Linked DNA regions of Homo sapiens: region 1 is linked to region 2. A link means that fine-mapping ties the variant in region 2 to the expression of a gene that starts in the linked region. Tissue or cell type: skeletal muscle. Region 2 holds a variant in brackets; the other region holds the start of a gene. All regions are shown on one strand. Distances are between the middles of the regions.

Evidence for each region. PIP is the estimated chance that this variant, and not a neighbour inherited with it, causes the effect.
Region 1: GSDMD starts here. The variant in region 2 is the best candidate, but not a certain one, in a credible set for the expression of GSDMD in skeletal muscle (GTEx, PIP 0.80).

Annotation. Positions count from the first base shown.
Region 1 is chr8:143,556,186-143,560,517 of GRCh38, forward strand. It overlaps GSDMD (gasdermin D), which reads left to right and starts at 2,161. Exons shown (of 11, transcript NM_024736.7): 1 at 2,161-2,266; 2 at 3,147-3,367; 3 at 3,592-3,784. The coding sequence starts at 3,151. It overlaps LOC100310756 (a long non-coding RNA gene), which reads right to left and starts at 2,086. Exons shown (of 1, transcript NR_147504.1): 1 at 634-2,086. RefSeq lists an enhancer at 1,976-2,617.
Region 2 is chr8:143,414,867-143,419,247 of GRCh38, forward strand. It overlaps MAFA-AS1 (MAFA antisense RNA 1), which reads left to right. Exons shown (of 3, transcript NR_186795.1): 2 at 2,875-3,053; 3 at 4,109-4,284. Among named protein-coding and RNA genes, the nearest start is that of MAFA-AS1, 8.9 kb to the left of the region's middle. The variant A/C (reference allele first, on the strand shown) is at 2,068.

The sequences.
Region 1 (4,332 bases), 140 kb after region 2:
GGGCAAAAAAGAGCAACACTCCGTCTCTCACACACAGACACAAAATTAGCCGGGTGTGGTGGTACATGCCTGTAGTCCCAACTACTCGGGAGGCTGAGGCAGGAGAATCGCTTGAACCTGGGAGGCAGAGGTTGCAATGAGCTGAGATCACGCCACTGCACTCCATCCTGGTGACAGAGCAAGACTCAGTCTCAAAACAAAAACGAAAACTTTGCCAGGTGTGGTGCTGAGCACCTGTAGTCCCAGCTACTCAGGAGACTGACAGGAGGGGATCACTTGAGCCCAGGAGGTCGAGGCTGCAGTGAGTGGTGATTGTGCCACTGCACTCCAGCCTGGGCGACAGAGAGATCTTGCCTCACACAAAACAAAACAAACAACAAAAAATACACAAAACAGCCAGGAGACAGCACCAGCAGGGACCCGCAGGGCACCACTGTGTCCCCACTGTGGTCAGGCCTAGGAGTGGGGCCGAAGCCCAAGTAGCCCCATCCACAACCGCGGAGCGGCTGGGAGGGCCGGGTGGGAGGACTACCGTGTGCAGGGGTGGGCCCATGGCCCTGGGCCCACCATGACTTAGGTCAGTAGGGCACTGAGGGAGCCTGTGCCGAGACTAGGTGTTGCTACTGGGCACTAGATTTTTAAAATAACTGCTTTAATGAGACATAATTGTGTAATTCCCATACCATACAATTCATCCATTTAAAGTGTGCAATTCTGTGGGTCTTAGCATATTCAGAGGTATGCAAACATCACCAACGGCCAATATCAAAACACTTCCTCACCCCAGAAAGAAACCCCAAACCAGCAACCGTCGCTCCCAACCCCCGTCCCGGGCACCGGCAGCGCCATCTCCCTTCTTCCCTCTGGACGTGCCCATTCGGGACACATCACGTGAGCAGGATCACGCCGTCCGCTCCGTGTGCCTGGCTTTTCACTTAGCATGATGTCTCCAAGTCTGTGTCGCCCGTCTGTGTCGCCCAGTGCATCAGGGTCTCATTCCTTTTGACCGTGGGCGCCGTTCTACGGCCTGGATTCCAGTGCCTGGACTGGCCATGTTTAGTCTATGCACGCCTCAGTGGATGGACAGGGTTTCCACCTTGCCGCTATGGCGAAGGATGCTGCCGCTATGGCGAAGGATGCTGCCGCTATGGTGAAGGATGCTGCCGCTTTGGCGAAGGATGCTGCCGCTATGGCGAAGGATGATGCCGCTGTGACGACAGCTGCTGCCGCTGTGGCGAAGGATGCTGCCGCTGTGACGACGGATGCTGCCGCTATGATGAAGGATGATGCCGCTGTGACGACGGATGCTGCCACTATGGCGAAGGATGCTGCCGTGAACTTTGGTGCACAGGCATCTGTTTGCGTCTTTGCTTTCAATTCCTGTGGGTGGAGCTAGGAGTGGAATTGCTGGGTCACACGGTAACTCTTGGAGGAGCTGCCAGGCTTATTCCAGAGGGCCGCACGGGTTGACATTCCCACCAGCATTGCACAAATGTTCCAGTGACTCCACGTGCCCCCCGCGCTGGTTATTCACCTTTAGTAATACGACCATCTTTGTCAGTGTGCAGTATCTCTCTGTGGATTCCATTTGCATTTCCTTGATGACTAAGGGTGTTGAGCATCTTTGCATTTGCTTGAGGGCAATTTCTACATTTTGTACATCTTTGGAAGATCTGCCCAGACCCTTCGGCACAGGCCCAAAGTTGTTTGTTTGCTTGTTTGTTTTTGAGACGGAGTCTCACTCTGTCGCCCAGGCTGGAGTACAATGGCATGATCTCGGCTCACTGCAACCTACACCTCCCAGGTTCAAGCGATTCTCTTGCCTCAGCCTCCCAGGTAGCTGGGATCACAGGCATGCGCCACCACGCCGGGCTAATTTTGTATTTTTAGTAGAGACGGGGTTTCACCATGTTGGTCAGTCTGGTCTTGAACTCCCGACCTCAGGTGATCCGCCCGGGCACAGGCTCAGAGTTTTAAGAAAAACCACAAAGTGCTATGAAGTTTGAGGCTACCAGGATGGGGCGCCAAGCCAAGGTTCCTCCGGACGCGCGAGGCTGGTGCTCCAGGCGGGCTGGCGGGAAGAGGGGGCAGGAAGGGGGCCGGGGCGGGCTCTCCGGGACGGTTCCGGGAGGGCGTCCTGGGCGGGCCCTGCGTCAGGTTGCAGTTTCACTTTTAGCTCTGGGCACCTCCAGCTCCTGCTCGCCGGACGGCTCCCAGGGAGAGCAGACGCGCCAGACGCGCCACCCTCGGGGCGCCGACGGTCACGGTGAGCTGCGCCCCGCCCCCTCCCCCGGCCTGGCTGGAGCTCCCGAGTGGGGCCGGCCGCTGGCTCCCGGGTGGGGGATGCTGGCCCTGCTGCCCCAGCGTTCGCCCAGAAGGCCCCGCGCCGCACACGGGGGCGGAAGCTCCAGGCTTCGGGAAAGGCTGCCCCTGGCCAGCCCAGGGGCCCGGCCTTTGGACCTGGGCTTGGGCTTGACTCCCAGGTCCGCCATCCAGGTTCCCGGGCCGGTGCTGTTCCCGCCCCCAGCTGCCTTCTGGGCCCAGCCTCCACTTTCAGCAGACCCAGCACTCAGAGGCTTCCTGGGGCAGCTGCAGCCCCTCCACAGTGGCCCAGGTGCCCCCTATCCCAGCGGAGGCCCGCTATGGCCTCTGACCCCCAAAGCCTCAGCCTTGGACAGGTGGCTCATGGAGCTCCAGGCACAGAGAAGGCCCTGGAGGACGCAGCTGGGGTGGGGCGACACTCTGGCTGGGTTTTGCAGTGGGTCCCTGGTGACACTCTGGCTGGGTTTTGCAGTGGGTCCCTGCACCACGCTCAGGAGGTGACAGCTTGTTTCCTCCCAGCCAGAGGCAGCCATTCTAGTGGACAGAGCCCTCTGTGTTAGAGCAGGTCTGGGCGTCAGGCCTCACTGTCCCTGGCTGGAGGTGCTCATGGTACCGTAGACAACAGGGAGAACACTGTAATTCTGTGTTGGGGAGGGCCGGGGACAGAAGCTTTCTGCTAGTGGGAGCATCCCAGGATGAGCTGGGCAGGGCTGTTCTGGAGGGAAGGAGTCCCCCATCATGGGAGACATCCAAGTACTGACCCTTCTCCCACTCCCTCCCGCCCGCCCCGAGAGCACAATGCCTGACCCATTTCCCCTCCTCAGGAGCATGGGGTCGGCCTTTGAGCGGGTAGTCCGGAGAGTGGTCCAGGAGCTGGACCATGGTGGGGAGTTCATCCCTGTGACCAGCCTGCAGAGCTCCACTGGCTTCCAGCCCTACTGCCTGGTGGTTAGGAAGCCCTCAAGCTCATGGTTCTGGAAACCCCGTTATAAGTGTGTCAACCTGTCTATCAAGGACATCCTGGAGCCGGATGCCGCGGAACCAGGTGCCTGATGTGGTGCTGAGGCAGAGCCCCAGGGAGGCTGGATGGGAGAGGGGAGCGGGCTGGGGCCAACCATCCACTGGGCTCTGCAGCCTCTAGCTCTGGGCCTCTCTTCCAGAGGCCGGGGCCTTTCCAAAGGTCCCTCTGCCCTGGGGCTGGGACAGGGCTGGTGGGGGCGGGGGAGAGGCGGGGCGCTGGGCACAGCCTCAGGTCTGGCCTTGCTTTAGACGTGCAGCGTGGCAGGAGCTTCCACTTCTACGATGCCATGGATGGGCAGATACAGGGCAGCGTGGAGCTGGCAGCCCCAGGACAGGCAAAGATCGCAGGCGGGGCCGCGGTGTCTGACAGCTCCAGCACCTCAATGAATGTGTACTCGCTGAGTGTGGACCCTAACACCTGGCAGACTCTGCTCCATGAGAGGTGGGCCCGAAGAGGGCAGGGCAGGGCAGGGCCCCACCTACCCCAAGCAACCCTGCTTTTATTTATTTATTTATTTAAATTATTTTTTGAGGTGAGGTTTTGCTATCTCGGCCAGGGTGGTCTTGAACTCCTGGCCTCAAGCAGTCCTCCTGCCTCGGCCTCCCAAAGTGCTGGGATTACAGGGGTGAGCCACTGTGCCAGGTCCCAGCCTTGCTCTTGGGAAGGTCACAACCTTGGGGCATCAGGAAAGTCCCAGAGGCAAAAGAGCGCTGTGGCCGGAACCAGCTTGCAGGAAGGAAGCTGCAGGGGTCATCTGGGGCCTCCGCTGCCAGGACTGGATCCTAAGGACCGGACTGAGCCCCAGGCTGCTGTGAGGACAAGGGGTGGTGTGAACACGGGGGCCCAGGTGAGGGGGCCGCACCTCGAGTCTGGACTTGGAGTCCCCGAGTCCACCTTTCCTCATGGGGTCCCGTCCCCGTGGGGAGCACACGGAGAGGCTGCCGGTGCCCCGGCACCCACAGACCTCTGGAGGGCCCCTCTGCACCACC
Region 2 (4,381 bases):
GGTTATATACCATAGGGAAAGGGTACATGTGCTTCAGAGGGAATGGGGAGGAATTTGATCTAAAGGCAGGACTTACAGTATATGCTCTTATGCAAGAAACAACAGATAAACTGAAAATCTCAGAGGCATTCCTGGAACCAGTGTTAGTCAGAAGTCAGCATGGTGGATTAGCTTCCATGGTATGTTACTTTAGCCTCCACACATACCAAGGATTAGTAGTAAAGATGGAACTGGACTTCCAGTAACCACACAGAAGCTCAAAGACAGAGTACCTTACAGATGCTGAGGAAAAGAGACTCCCAACAGCAAATTCTATACCCAGCCAAACTATCTGTCTAGTGTGAGGAAATACTAATGACACTGTTAGATTTGTTAAATCTCAAAACACTTATCTCCCATGCATCTCTTCTGAAGAAGTATCTGAAGGATGCTCCCCTACAAGGAGAAGTCAACCAAGAAAGAGAAGGGGGTGCCAACACAGGTGAGGCAGGAGGGGCCAGCAGGCCTGGAGAGCAGCCAGTCCAGCTGTGGCAGGAAACTGGTTGGCTCCTGCTGAAAGGTATCCAGGGAAAATGGCCTTCCTAGATTACACAATGCAAGTTTCTGTGTGGAAGCCATGTCACGAGAGATTTCTAAAATGATTAGAGCATTTAGGAAGAATTTGTTGTTGACACATAGAAAACCAAACAAAGGAAAACCAGGAGGCAATTTTTAACTCCAGGAAAAACAAAGAAGTTGCTCAGGAAAGAGCATTTAATTATAGTATATAACGTTGTTCAGGCAAGAACAATTCTTATGTAGTCATGATAATTTAAATATGGAATATTTTTAAGCTAAAAGTATTGTGGGGTTTTGTTGTTGTTGTTGTTTTGTTGTTGAGACGGAGTCTCACTCTGTCGCCCAGGCTGGAGTGCAGTGGTGTGATCTCAGCTCACTGCAAGCTCCACCTCCTGGGTTCACGCCATTCTCCTGCCTCAGCCTCCTGAGTAGCTGGGACTACAGGCGCAAGCCACCACGCCCGGCTAATTTTTTGTATTTTTAGTAGAGACGGGGTTTCACCATTTTAGCCAGGATGGTCTCGATCTCCTGACCTCGTGATCTGCCCGCCTCAGCCTTTTTTGTTGTTGTTGTTGTTTTTTGGAGACAAGGTCTCACTCTGTCACCCAGGCTGGAGTGCAGTGGTGTGATCACAGCTCACTGCATCCTAGACCTCCCAGGCTCAGGCAATCCTCCCACCTCAGCCTCATTTGTAGCTGGGACTACAGGTGCATGCCACCATGCCCAGCTAATTTTTTGTAGTTTTGGTAGAAATGGGGTTTCATCACATGGCCCAGGCTAGTCTTAAACTCCTGGGCTCCAGCAATCTGCTTGCCTTGGCCTCCCAAAGTGCTGGGATTACAGGCATGAGCTGCTGCACCCGGCCTAAACTAAAAATGTTCACATAGTATATAGGGAGGATGTGGGGCGGGGAAGAGCAAATGTGTAATGGAGTGAAATCCTAAACAATGCCTAAAATTAATAAATCAAGAAATAGTAATATAAACATTTTATTTAGAGATTTGGAGGTGTACTAGTCTGTTCTCGCACTGTAATAAATTACCAAGACTGGGTAATTTATAAAGAAAAAGAGGTTTAATGGACTCACAGTTCCACATGGCTGGGGAGGCCTCATAATCATGGCGGAAAGTGAAGGAGGAGCAAAGGCGCGTCTTACATGGTGGCAGGCAAGAGAGCGTGTGCAGGAGAACCGCCTTTTATAAAACCATCAGATCTTGAGAGACTTATTCACTATCACGAGAACAGCACAGGAAAAACTCACCCCCATGATTCAATTACCTCCCACTGGGTCCCTCCCATGACACATGGGGATTATGGGAGCTGCAATTCAAGATGAATTAGGGTGGGGACACAGCCGAAACATATCAGGAGGTTCCTGGAAGAAACAGAGTTGAAAGCAGTTATCTTGCTGAGTGGGGGACTCAGGGCATGGGCAGGAGACTGCTGAGTTTTGTTTTACGTCTTACTACATTTGATTTATAAAAGACAGATGTGCATATATCACTTCAA[A/C]AAAACAAAAGTGGATGTGGCTGATGCCAAAGTGACCTGCCCCAGAAGAGCTGCTAACAGAACAGCATCCCAGGAGGCTGCAGAAGGCTGAAGAGCAGAGCCCACACCTGCTATGGGCCACAAGAGGCCCTGGATGCCATGGAGGCCGCAAGGGCCCAGGCGGGACTTGCAGAATGAGAGTCCTAGGCCCAAGTATAGAGTCCCTGGTGGGCACAGAGGAGAGACCAGGTCAGTGGGAGGGGTTGTCAGACCCTGTGGAGTGCCCCACCTGTGTGCCAGGCCCAGAACTGGGCTCAACTCTGATGGTAGCAGGTGGAAAGTAGACTTCACTACTGTGGGAGTGGGGGCATTCCTGGACACAGGGGGAAACCAGCTCACAGAACAGCCTGGGGTCTTCTTGGAGGAGGCCATTTTGGCCCAGATCCTAAAGGAAGACTGGAAGCCTCAGGGGGCAGTGAGAACAGGGACAAGAGAGGGCAGGTCTCAGGACTGACTGAGCAACTCAGACTGACCTGGATCAAACTGTGGAGCCGGCGAAGGGTTTAGAGGGTTGCTGCAGGACAGTGGTGTCTGCAAAGACGCCTCTGGCTGCTGTCTGGAAAATAGACAGGGGAGGCTGGGCAGGGGTCTGGGCAGGGGCTGGACAGGGGTGCTGGGCAGGGGCTGGACAGGGGTGCTGGGCAGGGGCTGGACAGGGGTGCTGGGCAGGGGCTGGACAGGGGTGCTGGGCAGGGTCAGTCCATCTCCATCCTGCTTTCCTTTTCTTTCTTTTCAACAAATATTGATGGAGCACCTCCTCGGTGCCAGGCGCTGCTGCAGCCTCTAGGAAATCAACCGTGGAAACACACGGACCCTGCCCTCCCGGCGCCAGTGTTCTGGTGGTCAGGAGGTGAAGAAAACCAGCAAGAACCAGCACAGGAATCCGACGGTGGCAGCGCCGAGAGAAACAAGCTTGGAGGGGAAGGAGAGCTACAGAGGCTGCATGGGTGAGGCCAGCTTCTTGAAAATGGAGGTGTGAGATTTGAGGAGGGCTCTGGAGAGAAGAGGGAAGAGGGCCCAGGGGAGAGATGAGCAAAGGTTCGGTGGTACAAACTGAGCTCCCTCACTCCACGTTTGGAGTCATTCCACAGCTTCCTAAACCACCCACCCAGGCAACCCCATCCCCCTACCCACCCATCCACCCACCAACTCACCCCCAACCCCCCACCCACCCATCCTCCCACCCACCTGCCAACCCCCTACCCACCCACCCACTCATCCTCCCACCCTCCAACCCCCTACCCACACACTCACCCATCCTCCCACCCACCCTTCAGCCCCCTACCCCCCACCCACCCACTCATCCTCCCACACACCCTCCAACCCCCTACCCAGCCACCCACCCACTCATCCTCCCACCCTCCAACCCCCACCCACCCACCCACTCATCCACTGACTCTCTAACCCCCTACCCACCCATCCACTCACTCATCCACTCTTCCCCATACCCCCCCACCCACCCACTCATCTTCCCACTCACCCCCATACCCCCTACTCACCCACCCACTCACCAACTTACCCGCCCATCCATTCATTCACCCTCCTCCCACTCACCCACTCCCACCCATCCCCCATTCCCCCATGCCTCATCCTCCCATCCATCCATCTACCCACTCACCTACCCAACCACTCACCCATCTACCCACTCACCCACGCACCCTTCCATCCATCCACCCACCCATCATCCACCCACTCATCTGCCCATCTCCCCATTCCCCCACCATCCCATCCATCCATCCACCCATCCACCCATCCATCCACCCAACTGACCATCCACGTATCCACTCACCCACCTGTTCACCCATCTACACACCATTTATTCACCCACCATCAACCATCCATATATCCTTCCATCCAGCCACTATCCTCCCGTTCCTACCCATCCTGCTGTCTTCCTCATCTTTCTTGTCACACGTCCAGCTGTCTGTCCGTTCATCCACCCATCACCTCATATGCTCCTTTTGTTTTTACCTCTTTCACCTTTCTTCATCTTCAAATGCAGATGTGATGGTTGGAGTGGAAGCTGACATTGTGGGCCAGGAGACCCTGGGAGTACAGGCCAAGATGAAAAGAGCCTCAATCCAGAGCGTTCTGTGAAGCAGTCACCACGGCCACCCTGGGCCATCAGCTTCTGGACTTTTACAACATAGAAATTAAATTTCCATTGAATTTGTTGGAGTCATTGTTCCTTCAGCTCTCTGTTACCTGCACTTACATCTCTCTGTGAGTCGCGGAGTCTTGCAGTTAAGGTATTAATATTATTGCGTCTCAAGGT